7 linked regions of the Homo sapiens genome follow. The protein of the gene in region 1 purifies or fractionates together with the protein of each later gene. This does not show direct contact. Each region holds a gene or a part of one and is shown on either strand. Other genes may lie near its edges. The genes, in order: GAB2, FERMT2, MARK2, LIMA1, YWHAE, STK38 and GSPT2.

Region 1 (3,500 bases):
TTCCCTGTGTGAAACTGGAATGACTTTGCAGGCCTTTATAAACATGCTCATGTGTTATATATAAGGTGTGTATGTGTAGCATTATCATTACTGGCTGATTACCAGACTTTCTTTTCCTGCTCCAGCAAAGCCAACACCACTTGACCTGAGGAACAACACCGTCATCGATGAACTCCCCTTCAAGTCACCTATCACCAAGTCTTGGTCTAGGGCCAAGTAAGTGCGTATGTGTGGGGGTGGGAGCTTGGAGTCGGGCCATTAGGGAAAATGAGTGATGTGGTAGCTGGCCTGTGGGCCGGGACAGCTGGATTCTGATGCTAACGCTATCATTAGCTGATCATGTCTCGATGTCTTGTGGCTTGGTTTCCTCAGCTGTAAAAGAGAATAATTATACCTGCCCTATATCAGATCTTAATCTGATGGAGTGTGCAGCTCTAATGGCTGAGGTCTGGGTGTGTGAGGGTCAGGGCCCAGCTGGAGGCTAGAAACATGGCAGCAGCCATGCAGCTTCCCCAGTGTTAACTCTTCCTTCCCACAACAGCCACACCTTCAACTCCAGCTCCTCCCAGTACTGCCGCCCCATCTCCACCCAGAGCATCACCAGCACAGACTCAGGAGACAGCGAAGAGAACTATGTCCCTATGGTGAGTCCTTCGGGCTTCGCTGGAATGACGCCTTTCAAGTCCCCTGGGACCCACCCCTCAGTTCCCCACTTCCCAGCTTAGCTAACTCACCTCAGCCCAGGGACTCCTTGTATTATTCATGATTTAGTCTCCTGCTACAAACCCTTCTTGAGCACCTGTTTATCAAGCAGTAGGAGTTGTCATCAGATGTAAGGAAGACATGAGACCTGTCCCAACGAAGTCATGGTCTTCAAGAGCAGGGGCCTGCCTCTCATGACAGTGACATGGGTGGCATGATCTGTGCCCTTGGATAGGCAGTGCTGGAGGTATCTCCTCAGTGGTGGAGGTATCTCCTCAGTGGTGAGAGGCATACGTGCACATAACTCACTTTGGTGAGGCCATAATAGAGCTATCAACACAGGCAGAGGAGGATATTTCTTCCCTGAGATTTCCATTAAGGGCGTAACTGCCCAGCACCTGGTAGTCACTGCATAGATAGTGAAAGAATGAATTAACCAACCAGTAAAGCAGCCAACAAACAGAACACAGGACTATCACCTTCTCATTAGAATAAGACTTCCAGAAAGTTCTAGAGGAGGTGGTGCTCTGCTAGAGCACGAGCCTGGATGGACAGGATCCTAGAGCGTGTCATCTGAAGAAATGCGGGCTTGTGCAGCCTGGAGATGAAGCCACCCTCTTCAGATCTTGGAGGAGCTAGGCGGGGGAGCAAGCTGCTTTGGGGTGACTACCCCACTCTAGGCCACAGGTGGGAGTTTCACAGGGGCTGATTTGGTGCGACAGAAGAAAACTTTCCAGTGCATAAAGGAAATGTGCTCCTTTCTTAAGCGCCAGCAAGCAAAGGCTGGATGTCTCAGGAGAGCCACTGTTGATGAGACTTGGCCTGATGTGCTAGAAAGGAGGCAGTGTGGTACAGGGGTTAGCACAGGTTTGGAAGTCAGAAAACAGACCTGATTCCCATCACTCAACAGCTGTGCAGCCACAGGCAAAGTCACTTCTCTGAAAGTAAAGTGAACCACAGTTTCATCTTTGCTTTAAACAGTATCAACAGTAATCATACCTACCTTACAGGATTGTCATGAGGATTAAAATGAAAACATGAAAAGTCCTTAGCATGGTGCATGTGTCAGAGTAGGGCTCAGGGAAACAGTGTTCTTACTCCCAGAGGTGTTTTTCTGGGTGGTGGGTTAGTCTGTTTTCTGCAGTCACTCACAGTTTTTTCCTCCTCGTGACAGCAAAACCCAGTGTCTGCATCTCCCGTTCCCAGTGGCACGAACAGTCCTGCCCCTAAGAAGAGCACCGGCAGCGTTGATTATCTGGCCCTGGACTTCCAGCCGAGCTCCCCAAGCCCCCACCGCAAGGTGCCTGGAGTAGAGTTGGGGGGGCAGTAAGAGCTCTCAGGGTCCCGGAGGCAGAGATCATGGAGGCCAGGGTGCCTTCAACACTGAACAGCAGCACTCAGCCTCCCTCCTGCTCCAGTACCCAGCTTTTATGATGCATCTTTAGTCATAGAGCTTTCATCTAGGTCTAAAGACTCCTATTCCTGCTCTCAGAGCACAGTACCCTCAGTCAGAGAACCTCATCAGTCAGCCCATCCCCCGTGTTGTAGAGATGGGCAAATGAGTGCACAGAGATCTGATTGTCCTAAGGTTACAAAGTGAATCAGCAACAGATCCAGGAATGAGGATACTGCCTCCTGGTCCTGGGCTCTCGAGTGGGTCCAGAGCCCTGCCGTCGATACATCAGCCTTCAGAAGGGACTTCCAGGCCTGGGAAAGCCTCCCCAGGAGGCATCCTTATAGCTAAGCAGTCTAGACAGAAGGGTGCAGAGCTGTGCCTCAGCATGGTTCCCCTTCACAGGGTGGCAGTGAGCACAGCACGTAAAGTCCTGTGGCTGATGTTTGTTTGCACCTAGCAAATTCCTTCCCCTGGATGAGCGACCTGACAGAGATGGGTGGAGGCAGAGATGAAGGCCTGGACCCATCCACCAGGGCCAAGGAAGGGCCTGGGTCCTCCCAGAAGCCGGGAAGTAAGAAGGGCTGGCAGGTGCTGCTACATCCTGCAGGAGGGATGATGAGTTTGGAGTCTGAGCTTTAAAGCCCACATTCAGAAAGAGAAGCCAGGCTCCTGAGGCTGGTCAGTGGCAGGCAGAGGCCATGCTCTTCTCCCCTTCAGACAGCTCAGGAAGATCCCGTGCCCACCTTCTTCCTCCCCACCTAACTGGTAACTCACAGCTACTCCCTCTTTCCCACTCTGTCCCCTCAGCCATCTACTTCATCCGTCACCTCTGATGAGAAGGTGGACTACGTTCAGGTGGACAAGGAGAAGACCCAGGCCCTGCAGAACACCATGCAGGAGTGGACAGACGTGCGGCAGTCCTCAGAGCCTTCCAAGGGTGCCAAGCTGTGATGAGAGGGCCACCGCAGAGCCCAGGAGGCAGCATCTCCAGAGCTGGCCCTTCCCATCTCCCCTCTCCCCTCTCCCGTTCTTCCTCCCATCCACCTCCTCTCTACTCTGCCAGTCTCAGCCTTCAAAGCACTTGACATCAGGGACCCTGAACCCTTCCCCTGGGAGGTGAGGGCCTGATCAAGGCACCTCCTCTGCCCACTCGGGGCCCAGCTGTGATTTTTATCAGTAATGGCCATGCCTCCACCCACCTTAGTTAGGAGCTACTTCCAAAAAGCATCCTTCAGCCTCTTCCTGTCCTTTAGACCTGACTCTCTACCAGATGTTTGGAGGGAAGGGCTGGGGCTCTGAGCCAGATTCCACACCTCACGTTCAGTCACAGCCCTCAGCTATCTTCCCTCCGGCCACTGGGCTACCTCTCCTTCAGTCCCAGAAGACAAGTCTCACCAACCCA
Region 2 (3,500 bases), on another chromosome or scaffold:
CCTAAAACTGGGAGTAACCCAAATGCCCTTCAATTGCTAAATGGACAAACTGTGAAATAATCCATTCAATGGACTACTACTCAGTGATAAAAAACTATTGATACAAACACATGAACGAAGCTAACATGTATTATGCTAAGTGAAAGAAACCAGATTCAAAGAGCTAGAACTGAATGGTTCCATTTGCAGGCCATTCTAGAAAAGGCAAATTATCACTGGTTTTTAGGATCTGGGTTTGAGGCGATGAGACGGTTACAAAGGAAACTTTTGGGAGTACTGTAAAAGTTTTCTATCTTGACTGTGGTAGTTTTACATGTCAAAACTCAGAATATTATACTAAGAAGGATAAATTTTACTATATGTCAATCAGACCTCAATGAGCCTGACACTAAGAAAAAAAATTAACAGGAAAAACAATTATATAGTAATTATGCAACTAATTTGTTAAAGAATGAATTATAACGAATATGAATTTGTAACCACAAACCCAAGTGCAGAAGTCACACTTCTTAATTACAAAATAAAAGAATTATTTAAAAATACACTTTCAGATGTATTTGTTTACTTCTCACTGGGCATATATACCAATTTTAAATGTTCCATGGCATAAGCATTAATTTGTCAGTAAAATAATTATTTAAATAGGAATACTGCATACATTAGCTTTTTTCTGAAACTACTTTCATTAGTTTCTAAATAGGCCCAATGTTTTCATGTGCCTTTGCTATAAATGAACTAAAAACACTGCTCTTATAGAATATATTAAGTAGAGAATTAATTTACTACTGATGCTTTCATGGTTTTAGATTTTTCAAATACCTGGAATACCATCATCCACTTATTGGTCCCCTGCATTTCAGAAATCTTATTAAAATGGTACTTAAATAGCTCTCTTACACTGCAGAGGCAGGTGTGTGTTTGGAAGTTGGCGGGAAAGTAAAATGACAGCTATTTTTTCTTGTTGTTTAGAGGGTGGGAACAGAAAGCAATCCTAAACTAAGCTTTTTTTGAGGAGTGCAATTCCCCACCAGTAAAGCTGGAACTTATTAAATATACTAGATTATATTTTAACCTACTTTTCCTTTTTTTCCTTCCTACTTTCATATACTCAGAGACTCAATGCCACAGAGAAGTATCCACTCTCATTTGCATAACACAAATAGTTTATATAAAGTATATATACATGTAGTATCAATATATATGTATTATCTCATTTAATTCTCACCAAAACCTGTGAGAAAATGTTTTTCTTTTTCTTTTTTTTTTTTTTGAGATGGAGTCTTGCTCTGTCACCCAGGCTGGAGTGCAGTGGCGCGATCCCGGCTCACTGCAAGCTCCCCCTTCTGGGTTCACACCATTCTCCAGCCTCAGCCTCCCGAGTAGCTGCAACTACAGGCGCCCACCACCACGCCCAGCTAATTTTTTGTATTTTCAGTAGAGACGGGGTTTCATCGTGTTAGCCAGGATGGTCTTGATCTCCTGACCTCGTGAGCCACCTGCCTCGGCCTCCCAAAGTGCTAGGATTACAGGCGTGAGCCACCCCGCCCGCCCCAAGAAAATTTTTTTCAATTTCTATTTTATAGAAGTCAAAACCCACTCAGGTTGGATTCATTGTCCAAAGGTCATACTAACCAGTAAAGTAGCAGACAGAGCCAGAAGTTGAATCCAGATCTTCTGACACACTAGGCAACCTGTTATTTCTTAATAATCTGTGCCTCCATCAGCACCTACTACAGTCTGAGAACAGCTGACATTATGGGAAACCTACATCCAATGATGTCTAAAACTATTATTAACAGCTTATTTAATAGTAAGCTAAGAAGTAAACTAAATTTTAAAAATAAAGTATGTGAAAAAGAACCTATAAAAATATCACTCTTGGCCAGGCGTGGTGGCTGATGCCTGTAATCCCAGCACCTTGGGAGGCCGAGGTGGGCGGATCGCCTAAGGTCAGGAGTTCAAGACCAGCCTCGCCAACATGGTGAAATCCCATCTCTATTAAAAATACAAAAATTAGCGTGGTGGCGGGTGCCTGTAATCCCAGCTACTTGGGAGGCTGAGGCAGGAGAATCACTTGAACTTGGGAGGCGGAGGTTGCAGTGGACTGAAATCGTGCCACTGCACTCCAGCCTGGGTGACAAGAGCAAAACTCTGTCTCAAAAGAAAAAAAAATCACTCTGAAGTGAAATTTGCACTGATACTAAGAACCTTATTTTAAAAAGGTTAAACAATGTCTTAAAAGACCAAGGCTGAGGAACTGTTCTACAGGGTGGCCATAAAGTTTACAAACAGATACTATCATTTTACATGTATCTTAATGTAATGTCAATAAGCCATTTATTATATAATCTCCTGTAGCTCCACACTTGGTGGCTGTTCTGTATATCAAAGGAGATTAAGAGGCCCTTTCAACTAAATGCGAAATGAGATTCTGGATGGGAAAAAAACAAAGGCCATTATTGGGACAACTGGCAAATTTTGAAAATGGATGCATATTAGATGACAGAAGTGAATCAATGTTGAATTTCCTGAATGTGATCACTATACTGTAATTATGCAAGAGAAGTTTCTTGTTCTTAGGTGATACATATTTAAATATTTAGGAATCAAAGGTTATGAGTAAGTCTGAAACTTCATCCAACTGCTCCCCAACATGTGTATGTTTGTGTGTATAGAAAATTCAAATGGCAAAATACTAACTGGTGTCTAGATGAAGATTACGCAGTGTTCACTCAATTACTCTTGAACTTAGATGTTTGAAACTTTTAAAAATTAAGAGCCAAAGATAACAGGTAAAATTTTACATATTTTCTTTCCATTCTCTTCAATAGCGAGCGATTAGACATTTCCAACAAGGCCTTTTATAAGTAATTGAATAAACATATTTTTAGCATCTCTATAAATAAGTTAACTCTAGTTGGAAACAAACAGTTTTTTACTTTAAAAAACTGGGTATAAAACATAGCAGCAAAACAAAAACAAAAGGCAGCAAATAGCACATACTCTAAGGAATAGCTCATACTTTATTAGCTGTCACAGGATTACAGTAAAACTTGAGTACTGTCCTCCACTTTTAAAGAACTTAAAATTTGCTAAGAAACTGATACAATTTAATTCACTTCCTATGGATCATGAACAGTGTTTTAAACACTGAGTAAACTTACTATCAGATTTAACCAAAACTTAATTCACTTTAATAAGATTTTAACATTGTTTCCTACTCCACCCCCAAGATTTAAAAAAATTTCTTATAATGTTAATGTATTTCACTATGAATGCAATGAGGATGCATCATGTAGGCATTAATTTCCATGAATTCAGTTGTGAGCCCTCAAGGGGAAAAACTAAGGATTTCAACTGCATAGGCACCATTCCACCAAATAAGCACACACCTTCCCCAGGGAGCACTAAGCCAGGGTATAAGGGAGCTGTCCAGTTACGTATGCCTCTTTCCCAGTGTGCATCTTGCCAAGCTCTAATCCTAGTGTTTAAAGTATTTT
Region 3 (3,500 bases), about 14 Mb from region 1:
CTTGAGCCTAGGAGCTATTTGAGGCCGCAGTGGGCTATGATCACACCACTGCATACTAGCCTGGGTGACAGGGTGAGACCCTGTCTCTTAAAAACACCAACAAGGTCAGGCGCGGTGGCTCACGCCTGCAATCTCAGCACTTTGGGAAGCCGAGGCGGGCGGATCACGAGGTCAGGAGATCGAGACCATCCTGGCCAACATGGTGAAATCCCATCTCTACTAAAAATACAAAAATTAGCCAGGTGTTACAGCCGGGCACGGTGGCTCACGCCTGTAATCCCAGCACTTTGGGAGGCCGAGGTGGGTGGATCATGAGGTCAGGAGATTGAGACCATCCTGGCTAACATGGTGAAACCTCATCTCTACTTTAAAAAAAAAAAAAGTACAAAAAATTAGCTGGGCATGGTGGTGGGCGCCTGAAGTCCCAGCTACTCGGGAGGCTGAGGCAGGAGAATGGTGTGAACCCGGGAGGCAGAGCTTGCAGTGAGCTGAGATCGCGCCACTGCACTCCAGCCTGGGCGACAGAGCGAGACCCTGTCTCAAAAAAAAAAAAAAAAAAATTAGCCGGGTGTGCTGGCACATGCCTGTAGTACCAGCTACTTGGGAGGCTAAGGCAGAATTGCTTGAACCTGGGAAGCGGAGGTTGCAGTGAGCTGAGATTGTGCCACTGTACTCCAGCCTGGGCAACAGAGCAAGACTCCGTCTCAAAAAAACAAAAAGACACAACAAAAAGAAGGTGGAGAAAAAAGGCAGCCGCACATGGGATATCAGAAACCAAAGCAAAACTCATACTGAAATGGTAATCAGAAGCAATGAGTAGCTCACTGTAGTATCAACAGGGGCAACCAGCCCCCAAGGACAAGGTCTAGGCTGGAGCTCTGTCAGCAGGTAGTTACACTCACTAATTACTAAACGTTCATATTTTGGCATTTCCTGCTTAGCTGGGAGACTGGGAAATAATCCTACCTGGCTGGCCTTGCTCCCTGAGAAAGACTTCCTAGTGCTATTGCAGGAAGTGTCAGCACACATGGTGACCGGAAGCTCCCACCTTTCCTACAGGTTGTTTCCTATGGCTGAAGTCCCTGTAAGCTGCCAAAGAGCAAAAACTATTTTTTCTCTCTTTTCTTTCCCAGCAGGCCTGGACAGACAGTCCCATTGCGTGGACGAAAAAAGGCCTGGGATGTCACTGAATTTAGCAGCCAGATCATAGCAGTAAGGAGTCCTGATCCCCTCCCAGACCCATAAATGAGGAGCCAAAGGCAGACCCAGTCCCTTCCTCCTGGCTAGGCTGAGGGTCTTTCACCAAGTTGTGAATTGGGAAGGGAGTCCAAAAAAGGAGTTAATGTCTTAGAGCTTTCAGTGAAAGGTGTATAAAGCAAAGCTGCCTTCAGGTTCAGCATAGGGTGGAGAGAAAGCCTCCTCCCTGGAGTGAAGGACCAGCTCAGAGACCCATTCAGTGTTTGGGGAGAAGGGGGTTGTTGACAGATAGTTGTCTTCCAAACTTTCGCCTCAACGAACACAGCCCCAAAGGAGGCAGACCTTTGTATTGCCAACTTCCCAAAGAGCACACAAGAAAATAGGCCAAGGCTGCCCAAAACCAGCTTGACTGGTTCTACAGAGAAGCCCCTGGTCTGCTCCGCCTTCCTCATGTTAAAAAGAAAAAGGCCAAAAAGGTGGCTGGGAGCCAGTCACTGAACACAGCCCTCCTCTCTTTCTGCCAGGCACCAGTTGTCCCTCAGGATCACCTAGCCACCAGTATCAGTGTCCATCTCCCCTCCTCTCCTACCAAATCTTCTGTTCATTTAGTTTTATAAGCCTAAAATTAATGATTTGGTGTAAAAAGGAAATGAATTTACTTTTGCCCTTTTTGCCATTTTCTAATGAGAAATGTAAGGAATAACTGCAAGTAGGGGGAAATAAGTGCCAACCCAAAGACAGACATCTGCGGAAAGAACCACCACAGGGACTGACAAACCTTATTTATCTTGAGATGGGGTCTCACTCTGTTGCCCAGGCTGGAATGCAGTGGCATGATCACAGCTCACTGCAGCCTCAACTTCCCAGGCTCAAGTGATCCTCACATCTCAGCCTTCTGAGTAGGTGGGATACACGCATGTGCTACCACACCCAGGTAACTTTTTAAAAATTTTTTTGGGCTGGGCGCGGTGGCTCCCGCCTGTAATCCCAGCACTTTGGGAGGCCGAGGTGGGTGGATCACGAGGTCAGAAGATCGAGACCATCCTGGCTAACAAGGTGAAACCCCGTCTCTACTGAAAATACAAAAAAATTAGCCGGGTGTGGTGGCGGGCACCTGTAGTCCCAGCTACTCGGGAGGCTGAGGCAGGAGAATGGCGTGAATCCGGGAGGCGGACCTTGCAGTGAGCCGAGATCGTGCCACTGCACTCCAGCCTGGGCGACAGGGCAAGACAACGTCTCAAAAAAAAAAAAAAAATTTTTTTTGGCCAGGCGGGGTGACTCATGCCTATAATCCTAGCACTTTGGGAGGCTGAGGCAGATCACGAGGTCATGAGTTCAAGGCCAGCCTGACCAACATGGTGAAACCCCATCTCTACTAAAAATACAAAAATTAGCGGGGTACAGTGGCGTACACCTGTAATCTCAGCTATTCAAGAGGCTGAGACAGGAGAATCACTTGAATCCGGGAGGCGGAGGTTGCAGTGAGCTGAGATCGCACCACTGCACTCCAGCCTGGGCAACAGAGCAAGACTCCGTCTCAAAAAAAAAATTTTTTTTTTGTAGAAATGAGGTCTCACTATGTTGCTCAGGCTGGTCTTGAACTCCTGGGCTCAAGTGATCCTCCTGCCGTGGCCTCCCGAAGTGCTGGGATTACAGATATGAGCCACCACACCTAGCTTGAGAAACTTGAAACATTCCAGACAAAAACAGATATGAAGATAAAGGGATCTAGCCTATTTATACTTATCAGAGGAGGAGATGTCTAGAGGGCAAGAGGAGGAACTGGGATGCCTCCTCCTCTGAGACACAACTGGAAATCAAGAGGCCAGATTCTCTCTGGGTGCTGTTTAGAATCAGCTGTACTATCTCAGTCTAAAAGATAAGCAATGATGCCGGGCGCGGTGGCTCACTCCTGTAATCCCAGTACTTTGAGAGGCCACGGCAGGCGGATCACTTGAGTCCAGGAGTTCAAGACCAGCCTGGCCAACATGGTGAAACCCTATCTCTACTAAAAATACAAAAAGTGGCCAGGCATGGAGGTGCGCACCTGTAATCCTGGTTATTTGGAAGACTGAGGCATGAGAATCGCTTGAACCCAGTAGGTGGAGGTTGCAGTGAGCTGAGATCCTGCCACTGCACTCCAGCCTGGGTGACCAGAGCAAGACTGTCTCAAAAAAAAAGACGAGCAATGACCTTCAATGGCCTATAACAAAAAGGAAGGGGGCGGGTGGCAGTAACATTCTGCTCAGGAGTTAGCACTTTCAGGGTTAACCTGGGGATAGCCTGGCTCTCCAGCAGTGGGA
Region 4 (3,500 bases), on another chromosome or scaffold:
TACCATGAAAATTTTACATTCTTTTGATGTTCTTTTAAATAATTTCTTAATACTACTACCCTGGGCCGGGCGCGGTGGCTCACGCCTGTAATCCCAGCACTTTGGGAGGCCGAGGCGGGAGGATCACGAGGTCAGGAGATCGAGACCATCCTAGCTAACATGGTGAAACCCAGTCTCTACTAAAAATACAAAAACAAAATTAGCCGGGCGTGGTGGCAGGCGCCTGTAGTCCTAGCTACTCGGGAGGCTGAGGCGGGAGAATGGCGTGAACCCGGGAGGCGGAGCTTGCAGTGAGCGGAGATCGCGCCACTGCACTCCAGCCTGCGTGACAGAGTGAGACTCCGTCTCAAAAAAAAAAAAAAAAAAAAAAAAAAAATACTACTACCCTGAAACTAAGAACTTTCATCTTTAGGGGAAAAAAAGATGCAACTTTTTTGTACTTCTGATAACAAGTGTGGATCTATTTTCCCCCTTAATTATTCTGTAACAGAGTTTATGATATGGAAAACTTTACAGTCCTTCAAATATGTTTTGTCTTGCACAAAGTATTGCCATTTTTGTTTCATTACCCATAAATTAGTCCCAATATCCGCTTTACTTAGTTTTAGATTTCCACAATCTTTTTTTTCTCCATAAACTGAAATTCAAGCTAATGCCCCGGGACTTCTTTTATTTCATAGTCAGTTTTACTAAACAGGTAACATTTGCTCAGCTTTGGCGTCTGAGCAAAAATTTGGCTTCCAGCACTACAGGAAAGCTGTCTGTCCATGCATAGTATCCAGTGGTTTCTGTCTAACGGTCCTTACCCCTTGGCAATAACTGACCAAGTGAACAACTTGTCTAGTTCTTCCTTTCATTTGCTTTTCTTGACATGACTACTATCTGGTTCTCCATTTTCTAATCTAACCACTTACTCCCATGATCCATTAACTCAGTCTTTTTGCCCCTTAAATGCCGGGTTCACCATAGCCCTGCTCAGCTTCCTATTCTCACTATACTTTCTCCCTTTATAATCTGATTTCTTTCCATGACTTCCACTATCACCTCCATGTAAGTGGCCTGAAAATTTATCTTTTTAAAAAACTTCTTTCATATTGTATATATAATTGTTTTATTTTCATATATGCCAACACATTTAAAAATAAAAATTATAGATATTTATATTATTATAAAATAAAAATTATATATGTTTATTATAGAAAATGTGGAAAAAACAGGCCGGGTGTGATGGCTCATGCCTGTAATCCCAGCACTTTGGGAGGCTGAGGCGGGTGATCACTTGAGGTCAGGAGTTCGAGACCAGCCTGGCCAACATAGTGAAACCCCATCTCTACTAAAAATACAAAAATTAGCTGGGCATGGTGGCGCATGCCTGTAGTCCCAGCTACTAAGGAGGCTGAAGCAGGAGAATCCCTTGAACCCAGGAGGCAGAGGTTGCAGAGAGCCAAGCTCATGCCACTGCACTCCAGCCTGGGTGACAAAGCAAGACTCCATATCAAAAAAAAAAAAAGAAAAGAAAAGAAAAAAAGAAAATGTGGAAAAAACAAATTATAAAGAAGACAAAATAACCCATATTCCATAATCTGTTCCAGAGAGATCTATCATTTGATATATTTCCTTTCAGTGGTTTTGTTTTCTTTGATATACACACACTCACATAAACACAAAGGTAATTGAACTCATACTGTTGCAGTAGATATAGTTTTGTGTCTGCTTTTTTTGCTTTATATTATTTTTCATAGCATCAAAAATTTTTGAAAACATTTAAATGGATATTTAATCTCCATTGTAATCTATTTAATAATTTATTATATTGAGGTTGCATAATTTATTTGTGTTTTGGTTTTACATTAAATGAAAACAATTGAGAACAAATTTATGCATAAATCTTTGTGCAAATGACTCATTATTTCCTTAGGTTAGATTCCCAGAGGTTGAATTACCAGGTCAAGGAGTGTGAAAATTTAAAAATACTAAACCTGCTCCCAAATTGCTTTTTGTAAAGATTAGACTAATTAACATTCTCAACTGCAGTGATTGTGAGTGCCCATCTTAGTGCGGCCTTGGTAACATTGAATATTATTATTATGATGATTTTTGAGATGGAGTCTCGCTCTGTCGCCCAGGCTGGAGTGCAGTGGCACGATCTCTGCTCACTGCAAGCTCCACGTCCCGGGTTCATGCCATTCTCCTGCCTCAGACTCCTGAGTAGCTGGGACTACAGGTGCCCGCCACCACACCTGGCTATTTTTTTTTTTATTTTTAGTAGAGATGGGGTTTCACCGTGTTAGCCAGGATGGTCTCAATCTCCTGACCTTGTGATCCGCCCACCTCGGCCTCCCAAAGTGCTGGGATTACAGGCATGAGCCACCTCGCCCAGCCCGTCTGGCTAATTTTTGTGTTTTTTAGTAGAGACAGGGTTTCACCCTGTTGATCAGGCTGACCTCAAGCCCCTGACCTCAGGAGATCTGCCCACCTCGGCCTCCCAAAGTGCTGGGATTACAGCATGAGCCACCGCGCCCGGCCCGAATATTATTTTTTAATCTTTACTAATTTGATAGGCAGAAATGAATTAATTTGTATTTCTTTGCTAGTGAGAGAGAACATTTTTCATACATTCATTTCTGTTTCTTCTGTGAATTATGTCTGGGTTAATCCCACTCCCATTTTTATTTGGGCGTTAACATTTTAATTATGTTGGTTTTTTGTTTGGTATTCTTTTATTTGGAGCGTTTTGTGGGGGAAGCACAGGCTTTTATTAGACCAAATAGAGTGAATGGAGTGACAAAGTGGAAAGTATACAGAAGTTGGAATTGTGGTGTTATAAATGCCCATTGTTTTGAGGGGCCAGAGCTTGTGATCAATGAAGCAGTACTGCAGAATGGAAAGGGTGCTATTTGAGAGTCAGGATTCCCAACTTAATGTTGTCATCAACCAATCAGGTGATCTTGGACAAGTCATTGATTCATTGACTCAGAGCCTCATCTGTAAAATGAGAGGGTTGGGCTTTTGATCCCCAAGACTGGACAACCTCTGTGCTGAAAGGATGCCTTTGGAGCTACTACTGTTCACTAGACATTCTGGAATTACTTTCTGTCTCATCTCTAACCTTTCACCTAATTTTAGATATATAGAGCCTGAGGAAAGACTGGATGCAGTAAAGGCAGTGTCCACCGGAGTAGCAAGGGGAGCCTGGGGACAGCTTAATTTGTTTGTGCCCTTTAACTTTCAGGAAAATAGAAGTATAAAAAAAAAATTGAATGGGGTTCTTGCTGTGGGGGTTGGGGGAAGAAAAGAAAAAAAAAGAAGTCAAAAAGATTGGTATTTTTTTAGGCACTCCCATAGACTGACACTTGGAAACTGGTAAGATAAAATCACAGAAGCCCTGCTGACCTGTGCCACAAAACTCGATTATCTACAATGTATGTGAAAAATGTCTCATTTTGTGACTAGAGGGTGTACGTCTCCAAGGCAAGTTATTTAACAACTTCTTCTACTTC
Region 5 (3,500 bases), on another chromosome or scaffold:
GTAGGCTAAATGCAAGCTCCGCCTCCTGGGTTCACACCATTATCCTGCCTCAGCCTCCCGAGTAGCCGGGACTACAGGCGCCCGCCACCACACCCGGCTGATTTGTTTTTATATTTTTAGCAGAGGCAGGGTTTCACCGTGTTAGCCAGGATGGTCTTGATCTTCTGACCTCGTGATGTGCCCGCCTCAGCCTCCCAAAGTGCTGGATTACAAGGTTGAGATATTTAACAAAGTATTAATGCAAAAAGAAAATCTTGGACAATACCTCAAAGTTTAAAAAAATTTAATTTCACGTTAATGGAGGCAGGGAAGCAAAGAAAATAAAAGGCAACACAGACGCCATGGAAATGTGATTATGTAAGCCATTTACAGTTTTAAAAGAAAATCCACACTTACTGAGTACTGTGTACTATGTCCAACAAACGATACGATATACCAATAGAAAAAAAAGAGACATAATCTAAGTCCACATCAACTTAAAAATTTAGAAATGGAGGGTAGACAAATACATAACTATTTTACAAGGAGGAGGCTGGCTGTGGTGGCTCATGCCTGTAATCAGCACACTTTGGGTGGCTGATGCGTGCGCGCAGATCACTTGAGGCCAGGAGTTCAAGACCAGCCGGGCCACCATGGCAAAACCTATTAAAAACACAAAAAATTAGGCCGGGTGCAGTGGCTCAAGCCTGTAATCCCAGCACTTTGGGAGGCAGAAGCGGGCGGATCACGTGGTTAGGAGATCGAGACCATCCTGGCTAACACAGTGAAACCCCGTCTCTACTAAAAATACAAAAAAATTAGCCGGGAGCAGTGGCAGGTGCCTGTAGTCCCAGCTACTTGGGAGGATGAGGCAGGAGAATGGTGTGAACCCAGGAGGCGGAGCCTGCAGTGAGCCGAGATCACGCCACTGCAGTCCAGCCTGGGCAACAGAGCAAGACTCCGTCTAAAAACACACACACACACACACACACACACACACACACACACACACACAAAATTAGCCGGGCATGGTGGCGTATGCCTGTAATCCCAGCTACTCAGGAGGCTGAGGCAGAAGAATCCCTTGAACCTGGGAGGCGGAGGTTGCAGTGAGGTGAAACTGTGCCAATGCACTCCAGCCTGGGCAAGAGAGCACAAAAACAAAAGAAGAAGAAGAATGAAGTGCTATTCCAAATAAAGTATTTCAGGGACCCAGAAGGAGGAGCAATTAAAGGGAAAGTCAAATTTGAACTAATCTCAATGGATAAGGAGAAAACAAAACACACTTCAGGTTTAAGCAGAAGCATGAGCAAAGGCATGCGAGTGACTTTAAACTGGAGCTACACGTGGGACAGCTAGACTGGAGTCTGACAAGGAAAGGTGCAACCACCAGTATTAGCTAAATAGCCACAGCTTCTTCAGTTACGATCCCTATCTGGACAAACTCAACTAGCCATTTAGAATGTTTTTACATTGGCTGGGCGCAGTGGCTCACGCCTGTAATCCCAGCACTCTGGGAGGCTGAGGCAGGTGGATCACCTGAGGTCAGGAGTTCGAGACCAGCCTGACCAAGATGGTGAAAACCTGTCTCTACTAAAAATGCAAAAAAAAAAAAAAATTCAGTCAAGCGCAGTGAAGCATGCCTATAATAGTCAACATTAAAGTTCCAATGTATCAGTTAATCCCCTTTCCTCAAACTTTGAAAGGCTTTCACTTAAAAACCCTACTTTGCTTAAGCAGTTGTCCTCAAACAAACCAAAAAAAAACACATACAAAAACCAAAAGGGGCCGGGCGCGGTGGCTCACGCCTGTAATCCCAGCACTTTGGGAGGCCGAGGAGGGCAGATCACGAGGTCAGGAGATCGAGACCATCCTGGCTAACACAGGGAAACCCCATCTCTATTAAAAATACAAAAAATAGGCCGGGCGCGGTGGCTCACACCTGTAATCCCAGCACTTTGGGAGGCCGAGGCGGGTGGATCACGAGGTCAGGAGATCGAGACCATCCTGGCTAACACGGTGAAACCCCATCTCTACTAAAAATACCAAAAATTAGCCGGGCGTGGTGGCGGGCGCCTGTAGTCCCAGCTACTCGGGAGGCTGAGGCAGGAGAATGGCGTGAACCCGGGAGGCAGAGCTTGCAGTGAGCCGAGATCGCGCTACTGCACTCCAGCCTGGGGGACATAGCGAGACTCCGTCTCAAAAAAAAAAAAAAAAAAATACAAAAAATTAACCGGGCGTGGTGGCGGGTGCCTGTAGTACCAGCTACTTGGGAGGCTGAGGCGAGAGAATCGCCTGAACCCAGGAGGCTGAGCTTTCAGTGAGCTGAGATCACGCCACTGTACTCCAGCCACAGCAGCAGAGTGAGACTCCGTCAAAATAAAAAAAAAAAGCAAAAAAACCATTTTGCTACTGCAATATTTACTGTAAAAATTTAAAATAGGCTGGGTGCAGTGGCTCACGCCTGTAATCTCGGCACTTTGGGAGGCCGAGGTGGCTGGATCACTTAAGGTGAGGTGTCCAAGACCAGCCTGGCCAACACTGTGAAAACCCATCTCTACATAAAAATACAAAAATTAGCTGGGTATGGTGGCGGGCGTCTGTAATCCCAGCTACCTGGGAGGCTGAAGCAGGAGAATCGCTTGAAACCGGGAGGCAGAGGTTGCAGTGAGCTGAGATTGCACCACTGCACTCCAGCCTGGGAAACACAGCGAGACTCTCCTCTCGGGGGAAAAAAAAAAAGAAAAAGACAATAGCAAAAAACAACAACAACAACAAAATGCCAACCTACAGAAGAGGAGAAAATACTCACAAACCATTTACTTGCTAAGAGGTTACTATCTGGAATAATGAACTCTCAACACTTAACAAACGAAAAAAACATGAATTCAAAAATGGGCAAAAGGGCCTGGTGCAGTGGCTCAGGCCTGTATTCTCAGCATTTTGGGAGGCTAAGGCAAGAGGATTACTTGAGGCCAGGATTTCAAGACCAGCTTCGGCAACACAGCCAGACCCTGCCTCTACAAAACAAAACAACAAAAAAAAATTTTTTTTTTGAGACGGAGTCTCGCTCTGTCGCCCAGGCTGGAGTGCAGTGGCGTGATCTTGGCTCACTGCAAGTTCCGCCTCCCAGGTTCACGCCATTCTCCTGCCTCAGCCTCCCGAGTAGCTGGGACTACAGGCGCCCGCCACCACGCCCGGCTGATTTTTTGTATTTTTAGTAGAGACGGGGTTTCACCACGTTAGCCACGATGGTCTCGATCTCCTGACCTCGTGATCTGCCCTCCTCGGCCTCCCAAAGTGCTGGGATTACAGGCGTGAGCCACTGCACGCAGCCCAAAAAAAATTTAAAAATTGGCCGGGCGCAGTGGCTCATGCCTGTAATCCCAGCACTTTGGGAGGGAGGCTGAGGTCAGGAGTTTGAGACCAGCCTAACCAAGATAGTGAAACCTCGTCTCTACTAAAAATGCCCCCAAAAATTAGCCAAGCATGGTGGCACATGCCTGTAATCCCAGCTACTT
Region 6 (3,500 bases), on another chromosome or scaffold:
TCAGGAGTTCGAAACCAGCCTGGCCAACATAGTAAAACCCTGTCTCTACTAAAAATACAAAAATCAGCTAGGCGTGGTGGCGAGCGCCTGTAGTCCCAGCTACTCAGGAGGCTGAAGCAGAAGAATTGCCTGAACCTGGGAGGCAGAGGTTGCAGTGAGTCAAGATCACGCCACTGCATGCCAGCCTGGGTGACAGAGCAAGACTCCGTCTCAAAAAAAAAAAAAAAAATATATGTATATATATATATATTTATATGTATATACACATGTATACATATGTATATATGTACACATGTATACATATATACATATACACATATGTATATACGTATATATACACACATATATATACACACACATATATGTAATATATGTATATATATTAGTACACACACACACACACACATATATGTATATAAAAATTAGCTGGGCATAGTGACAGGTGCCTGTAATCCCAGTTACTTGGGAGGGGCTGAGGCACAAGAATCACTTGAACCTGGGAGGCAGAGGTTGCAGTGAGGCGAGAGCACACCAGTGCACTCCAGCTCAGATGTCGGAGTGAGACTCTGCCTCAAAGAAAAAAAAAACCTTCAGACATCAAACTTTTGGAATACTGAACTTTAGAAAGTACATGCAGTAATGTTTTTGATCTATAGTCTCATAAAACTAAAAGAAGCAAGTAAAACTTCCTTACAACCAATTCCACAGAACCTTCATTTATTCAGCACAATAAATGAAAGCACATGGGCTAGAATCTCTCCTCCACCACTCATCAGCATTCCAGATAAACAGGCAATGTGTACAAACAGAGCAAAGAAGGATAAGACTACAGTATGCTGGCCAGGTGCGGTGGCTCACGCCTGTAATCCCAGCACTTTGAGAGGCTGAGGCAGGCAGATCACGAGGTCAGGAGATCGAGACCATCCTGGCTAACACAGAGAAACCCCATCTCTACTAAAAATACAAAAAAAAAAAAAAAATTAGCCAGGTGTAGTGGCCGGCGCCTGTAGTCCCAGCTACTCGGGAGGCTGAGGCAGGAGAATGTTGTGAACCCAGGAGGCGGAGCTTGCAGTGAGCCGAGATCGCACCACTGCACTCTAGCCTCGGTAACAGAGCGAGACTCCATCTCAAAAAAAAAAAAAGAGTGTACAGTATGCTGCAGAAATAGCATGTAGTCCATTGTGGCTGACGCACACAGCACTACAAATGCCACACCAAGAAGGTTGGATCTCATTCTGTAGACAACTGAGTGCTAAAAGAGGCTTGTGTGCAAAGGAGTGATGTGATAAGATTTCTATTTTAGAATGGTAACCAGCAGTAATGAGGATCTGATGGACTGGCAGGGAAAGCAACTGAGAAAGAGGCTAGTTGAGAGTTATTGTAATGATTCAGATGTACAGTAAAGATCTGGAACTAGGGCAGGAAAACTAGAATGAAGTGAATAGAGCTATTGCAAATATGACCAACTGGCAATAGGAGTCAAGAGAAAAACCTTAGAATTTCCTGTCTAGAGGGATATGATGCCACTAATCAAGACAGGAAACAGAGAGAGGAACACGAACAGTTCTCCCAGTTCCCAGAATATTTTGGGATACATGTGCATCTATGCGTGCACATGTATTAGAGAGAAAAGGCTGTACTCTTAGTAGTTTCGGGAGTGTAAATTAATTCCATTGCAAGTGGTTAGGTAGTTGAAGCAGAGAAGAACAAGAAAAGTCAAAGCATAACATGCTAGGCAAAAGCTCTAAGAACACAGCTGTGGTCAGCTCTTTTTGTGCCTTGAGTACTAAACACCATCATACGTCCTGACTACACGTTTTTGAATGACTACATCAGAATGGGCTACCAGTCCAATGCACTATCCACTGTGTCACAAAAGTGGCTCCTTCTAATTATATTTTAAACCTAAATACAAACTAAGAGGTTTTCCACAGGTTTACTGAAGTGTAATTAAATTGGTTGCAGAATACCTGCCTGAGAGTGAAGTTAACTCCTTGAACACAATCAGATTATTTCATTAGAGAAAGTATCCAGAAAAAAAAAGCCTATCCATGATAACAATTAGGACCAGGTCCACAAAGACCTTGAGGACACCAAAAACAGCAAGGACAGCCTGAAATGAGACTTAAAAATGACATCCTCTGTGAGATGACATCAAAGGAATTACTGTTAACTTGGTTAGATTCATGGTGGCATTTGCATTATGCAAGAAAATGGCCATATTTTTGGAAATGCATACTTGACAGTATGTAGGATTAAAATGACAGATGTTTGGAATTTACCTTAAAACACAATAGCAAGAAAAAACAAAATGGGATAGATGAAGAAAATGTACCAAAGCCCTAAAATTATTAAATCTGAGGGATGAATATATTGAAACGGGGTCACTATATTATTCCACCTATGTTTAAAATTGTTCATAATGAAAAAGAATAGCAGGACTCTCCACACAGGCATGTTCTCTGGTAGCAGTGCCAGGTTAACTAACACTCCAGCCCTTGGTGGAGCCACTCTTCCCTTCAATTCCAATGTTCAAAACCAGAACCCTAGGAGAGAGACGAAGCCACTTTCACACTTAGAGGCCATATCCAGCCTCACCCCAGTGATGCCTTCCATGTGTTCCATTTAGTTGCGTGTGTGTTCATTTCTTATATGAGAGAGTGGTAAGTCCTTCTGAAGGCAGGGACTATATCTGAATTCCCTATGTCCACTAAGAATAGTGCTTTGTACACAGCTACTTTCTAAATGTATGCTGCTAAATTTTAAAAAGTCAGAATGTATAGCAATGTGCAGACACATTCATGACTACTACTTACAATTAGCCCCCTTTTCTAATCTAATTTAGGGTCCCCTCTTGGCATAGCCTGATTTGGAGGTAGCAGGGATGAGAGAATAGGGCTATTCCACCCTAATTGAAAACAGACAGTATTTTGGTGAGACACTGAAAACCAGGAAAAATAGTGTATTTAACAGAAATAGGGCCAGGCATGGTGGCTCACACCCGTAATCCCAGCACTTTGGGAGGCTGAGGCTCGCACACCGCCTGAGGCCAGGAGTTGGACACCAGCCTGGCCAACATGGTGAAACCCCATCTCTACTAAAAATACAAAAATTAGCCGGGCGTGGTGGCACGTGCCTGTAATCCCAGCTACTCAGGAGGCTGAGGCAGGAAAATCTCTGGAACCTGGGAGGCAGAGGTTGCAGTGAGCTGAGATCGTGCCACTGCACTCCAGCCTGGGTGACAGAGCGAGATTCTGTCAGAAAGAAAAGAGAAGAGAAGAGGAGCGACAGATCGAGATTCTGTCAGGAAGAGAAGAGGGGAGCGGAGGGGGAGGGGAAAGGGCTGTGATTACATCTCCATGATTAAAATTCAGAAAATGTCTAATAAATACTTTTTTTTTTGAGACAAGAGTCTTACTCTGTCACCCAGGCTGAAGTGCAGTGGTACTATCTCGGCTCACTGCAACCTCTGCCTCCCGGGTACAAGTGATTCTTCTGCC
Region 7 (4,250 bases), on another chromosome or scaffold:
CATGGTGAAACCCTGTCTCTACTAAAAATATATATTAAGAAAAATTAGCTGAGCTTGGTGGCGGACGCCTGTAATCCCAGCTACTCAGGAAGCTGAGGCAGGAGAATTGCTTGAACCCAGGAGGCAGAAGTTGCAGTGAGCTGAGATCATGCCACTGCACTCCAGCCTGGGCAACAAAAGTGAAACTTTGTCTCAAAATAAAAAAATAAATCCATCTATGTGACACCATCTTGTACTAAGCAGATTGTTTGGACTGAATAGTCTTTCTAGGTATGTCACAAAACCTGAATTCATAAAAGCAAAAGGTGACAGATTTGAGTACATGAAGACTAAAAACAGATTCAGAGAATAAGTTTGTATTTTCTATGTCAGTTTGCACTAAATTAATTTACAAACAAGGTCGCTGAGGCTTTGACTCAACTGTTAACACTTTCTGAGAGTGAGATTCTTTTGATTAGGGTCTTAAGGTCTTTGTTCATCTCAGAAGTCTTAATTGGTTTAATTAGGCTGACACCTACAGCCCTGTCTCATTACCATAAACTGTAGAGGGGTTCAACATGACACTGATTGTTTCTTAGAGCAAAGCCAGTGCAGTGAGTAGGATTCCAGGCCCCCCGGAATGAAGCAGGAAAACCCGAGGCCTGTGGATGCAGGATGTACTAGGGAGGTGCTGGGGAGTAGTGCAGATAAACCCAGAATTCAGTTGGTTGGTAAAACAAGAGTGATCTGAGTCCTGTGCTTGTCTACGTGATCCACCATTGAATGGCAGGCCAGCCATTGTGCAGGCATCTGCATATGAAGTGACTGGAAGCTTCACTGGAACAAGGATCTCCTTGGAAATTCTCTCCCCTCAGACAGCCAGGGTGCTTAACATGAAAAGAAGTTGTAACCCTATCCTTAAACTATAGAAGCCATCAGCAGAAGTTACAGGCTTATGGGGGCCCACTGGAAAGGGAAAATCAAAAGGCCTGTGGATTTCAAATTAATGAGTGATCTTAAGTTGCATTTCCTAAGTTCGGCTACAGACTCATATATTTCATGAGTCCCTCCCTACCCATTCCTTGCCTCTCCCTTCAGTTGCTGGGTTTCTGAATTTCTGTATAGTTAACCCTTATCTTGCCTCCCATTTGTTCAATAGAAATGATCACTTTTACTTGAATCTTTTGGTAGAATTGTATACCATGTGTTCCTGTCTAGGTTTAATCATCAGATTGTGGTCAAATTGCTCTGCCAGACTGTGTGAACAAAAAAGTGAATGGAAATTTTCGTTTTAAAAAATAATACTTTTGGACTTAGCCCGTGGCTAAGAAGAAGTAAGGAAGCCAAGCGTACGGATAGCAGCGAGGGGTCAATCCACGCCCGGCGTTGGGTCGGGGGTGGAGGAGTCGGAAGTGGTTGGGGTTTGGGGGAGGAGATCCGCTCACACACAAGAGGAGAGTGTTGAGCCGCCATATCTGCTGCTGCCGCCGCAGTTGCGAATGCAGCATCGGCGCTTAGCTGCCTCCGCGGTGCAGCTAAGGTTCGTGTCGCTACCCCTTGGCCCTTCGCTCTTGCTGCCTTAACCCCGCCGGCGGAGCCCGCTCTTCTGGCCTGTTGAGCCCGCTCCCTCACTGCCACACAGCAAGTTCCGAGACCATGGATTCGGGCAGCAGCAGCAGCGACTCGGCGCCCGATTGCTGGGACCAGGTGGACATGGAATCCCCGGGGTCGGCCCCGAGCGGGGATGGAGTCTCCTCTGCGGTGGCCGAGGCCCAGCGCGAGCCCCTCAGCTCGGCTTTCAGCCGTAAGCTCAACGTCAACGCCAAGCCCTTCGTGCCTAACGTACACGCCGCGGAGTTCGTGCCGTCCTTCCTGCGGGGCCCGACTCAGCCGCCCACCCTCCCGGCCGGCTCCGGCAGCAACGATGAAACCTGCACCGGCGCGGGATACCCTCAAGGTAAAAGGATGGGACGGGGGGCACCTGTGGAACCTTCCCGAGAGGAACCGTTAGTGTCGCTTGAAGGTTCCAATTCAGCCGTTACCATGGAACTTTCAGAACCTGTTGTAGAAAATGGAGAGGTGGAAATGGCCCTAGAAGAATCATGGGAGCACAGTAAAGAAGTAAGTGAAGCCGAGCCTGGGGGTGGTTCCTCGGGAGATTCAGGGCCCCCAGAAGAAAGTGGCCAGGAAATGATGGAGGAAAAAGAGGAAATAAGAAAATCCAAATCTGTGATCGTACCCTCAGGTGCACCTAAGAAAGAACACGTAAATGTAGTATTCATTGGCCATGTAGACGCTGGCAAGTCAACCATCGGAGGACAGATAATGTTTTTGACTGGAATGGTTGACAAAAGAACACTGGAGAAATATGAAAGAGAAGCTAAGGAAAAAAACAGAGAAACCTGGTATTTGTCCTGGGCCTTAGATACAAATCAGGAGGAACGAGACAAGGGTAAAACAGTCGAAGTGGGTCGTGCCTATTTTGAAACAGAAAGGAAACATTTCACAATTTTAGATGCCCCTGGCCACAAGAGTTTTGTCCCAAATATGATTGGTGGTGCTTCTCAAGCTGATTTGGCTGTGCTGGTCATCTCTGCCAGGAAAGGAGAGTTTGAAACTGGATTTGAAAAAGGTGGACAGACAAGAGAACATGCGATGTTGGCAAAAACGGCAGGGGTAAAACATTTAATAGTGCTTATTAATAAGATGGATGATCCCACAGTAAATTGGAGCATCGAGAGATATGAAGAATGTAAAGAAAAACTGGTGCCCTTTTTGAAAAAAGTAGGCTTCAGTCCAAAAAAGGACATTCACTTTATGCCCTGCTCAGGACTGACCGGAGCAAATATTAAAGAGCAGTCAGATTTCTGCCCTTGGTACACTGGATTACCATTTATTCCGTATTTGGATAACTTGCCAAACTTCAACAGATCAATTGATGGACCAATAAGACTGCCAATTGTGGATAAGTACAAAGATATGGGCACTGTGGTCCTGGGAAAGCTGGAATCCGGGTCCATTTTTAAAGGCCAGCAGCTCGTGATGATGCCAAACAAGCACAATGTAGAAGTTCTTGGAATACTTTCTGATGATACTGAAACTGATTTTGTAGCCCCAGGTGAAAACCTCAAAATCAGACTGAAGGGAATTGAAGAAGAAGAGATTCTTCCAGGATTCATACTTTGTGATCCTAGTAACCTCTGCCATTCTGGACGCACGTTTGATGTTCAGATAGTGATTATTGAGCACAAATCCATCATCTGCCCAGGTTATAATGCGGTGCTGCACATTCATACTTGTATTGAGGAAGTTGAGATAACAGCGTTAATCTCCTTGGTAGACAAAAAATCAGGAGAAAAAAGTAAGACACGACCCCGCTTCGTGAAACAAGATCAAGTATGCATTGCTCGTTTAAGGACAGCAGGAACCATCTGCCTCGAGACGTTCAAAGATTTTCCTCAGATGGGTCGTTTTACTTTAAGAGATGAGGGTAAGACCATTGCAATTGGAAAAGTTCTGAAATTGGTCCCAGAGAAGGACTAAGCAATTTTCTTGATGCCTCTGCAAGATACTGTGAGGAGAATTGACAGCAAAAGTTCACCACCTACTCTTATTTACTGCCCATTGATTGACTTTTCTTCATATTTTGCAAAGAGAAATTTCACAGCAAAAATTCATGTTTTGTCAGCTTTCTCATGTTGAGATCTGTTATGTCACTGATGAATTTACCCTCAAGTTTCCTTCCTCTGTACCACTCTGCTTCCTTGGACAATATCAGTAATAGCTTTGTAAGTGATGTGGACGTAATTGCCTACAGTAATGAAAAATTAATGTACTTTAATTTTTCATTTTCTTTTAGGATATTTAGACCACCCTTGTTCCACGCAAACCAGAGTGTGTCAGTGTTTGTGTGTGTGTTAAAATGATAACTAACATGTGAATAAAATACTCCATTTGAAACTCTTCGGTTATTTGAAATGCTTTTGAATAATGTTTAAATGTCATTATGTAATGCTATTCAATTAGCTTTATTACTTTCTCAAATAGTTGAATATGTTCTATCACTTAAAAACTTAAAAACTCTTCACCACTTACTGTTTTAAGTGAGGAATTTACAAACAATGCATAAGTGTGTATTAAAGGAATAATTTTAATTTTGAGAAAAAAACGTATGTTAAGGCTCTTCCCAGTGGGCTTTGTTTTCTCTGTCCAAGTCCAGTCAATAAAGGAGCTCTTCTGCTTCCCCACTTGTGATTTGAAAATGAAAGGCT

Evidence for each region.
Region 2: the proteins of GAB2 (region 1) and FERMT2 purify together in Homo sapiens (co-immunoprecipitation; one large-scale study listed by IntAct). This does not show direct contact.
Region 3: the proteins of GAB2 (region 1) and MARK2 purify together in Homo sapiens (affinity purification with western blotting; one study listed by BioGRID). This does not show direct contact.
Region 4: the proteins of GAB2 (region 1) and LIMA1 purify together in Homo sapiens (affinity purification with mass spectrometry, with the first as the bait; one large-scale study listed by BioGRID). This does not show direct contact.
Region 5: the proteins of GAB2 (region 1) and YWHAE purify together in Homo sapiens (affinity purification with mass spectrometry; 4 studies listed by BioGRID and IntAct, with this or other methods). This does not show direct contact.
Region 6: the proteins of GAB2 (region 1) and STK38 purify together in Homo sapiens (affinity purification with mass spectrometry; one large-scale study listed by BioGRID and IntAct). This does not show direct contact.
Region 7: the proteins of GAB2 (region 1) and GSPT2 purify together in Homo sapiens (co-immunoprecipitation; one large-scale study listed by IntAct). This does not show direct contact.

Annotation. Positions count from the first base shown.
Region 1 is NC_000011.10:78,218,821-78,222,320, reverse strand, and holds part of GAB2 (GRB2-associated-binding protein 2), read left to right. Parts: exon of another isoform or gene 1-125; coding exon 126-216; exon of another isoform or gene 217-541; coding exon 542-644; exon of another isoform or gene 645-1,532; intron 1,533-1,876; coding exon 1,877-2,002; intron 2,003-2,905; coding exon 2,906-3,049; 3' UTR 3,050-3,500. UniProt on the Homo sapiens protein: Adapter protein which acts downstream of several membrane receptors including cytokine, antigen, hormone, cell matrix and growth factor receptors to regulate multiple signaling pathways.
Region 2 is NC_000014.9:52,941,051-52,944,550, forward strand, and holds part of FERMT2 (fermitin family homolog 2), read right to left. Parts: intron 1-3,500. UniProt on the Homo sapiens protein: Scaffolding protein that enhances integrin activation mediated by TLN1 and/or TLN2, but activates integrins only weakly by itself. Binds to membranes enriched in phosphoinositides.
Region 3 is NC_000011.10:63,845,610-63,849,109, reverse strand, and holds part of MARK2 (serine/threonine-protein kinase MARK2), read right to left. Parts: intron 1-3,500. UniProt on the Homo sapiens protein: Serine/threonine-protein kinase. Involved in cell polarity and microtubule dynamics regulation. Phosphorylates CRTC2/TORC2, DCX, HDAC7, KIF13B, MAP2, MAP4 and RAB11FIP2. Phosphorylates the microtubule-associated protein MAPT/TAU.
Region 4 is NC_000012.12:50,277,021-50,280,520, reverse strand, and holds part of LIMA1 (LIM domain and actin-binding protein 1), read left to right. Parts: intron 1-3,500. UniProt on the Homo sapiens protein: Actin-binding protein involved in actin cytoskeleton regulation and dynamics. Increases the number and size of actin stress fibers and inhibits membrane ruffling. Inhibits actin filament depolymerization.
Region 5 is NC_000017.11:1,355,223-1,358,722, forward strand, and holds part of YWHAE (14-3-3 protein epsilon), read right to left. Parts: intron 1-3,500. UniProt on the Homo sapiens protein: Adapter protein implicated in the regulation of a large spectrum of both general and specialized signaling pathways. Binds to a large number of partners, usually by recognition of a phosphoserine or phosphothreonine motif.
Region 6 is NC_000006.12:36,526,980-36,530,479, forward strand, and holds part of STK38 (serine/threonine-protein kinase 38), read right to left. Parts: intron 1-3,500. UniProt on the Homo sapiens protein: Serine/threonine-protein kinase that acts as a negative regulator of MAP3K1/2 signaling. Converts MAP3K2 from its phosphorylated form to its non-phosphorylated form and inhibits autophosphorylation of MAP3K2.
Region 7 is NC_000023.11:51,741,992-51,746,241, forward strand, and holds GSPT2 (eukaryotic peptide chain release factor GTP-binding subunit ERF3B), read left to right. Parts: upstream 1-1,450; 5' UTR 1,451-1,635; coding exon 1,636-3,522; 3' UTR 3,523-4,241; downstream 4,242-4,250. UniProt on the Homo sapiens protein: GTPase component of the eRF1-eRF3-GTP ternary complex, a ternary complex that mediates translation termination in response to the termination codons UAA, UAG and UGA.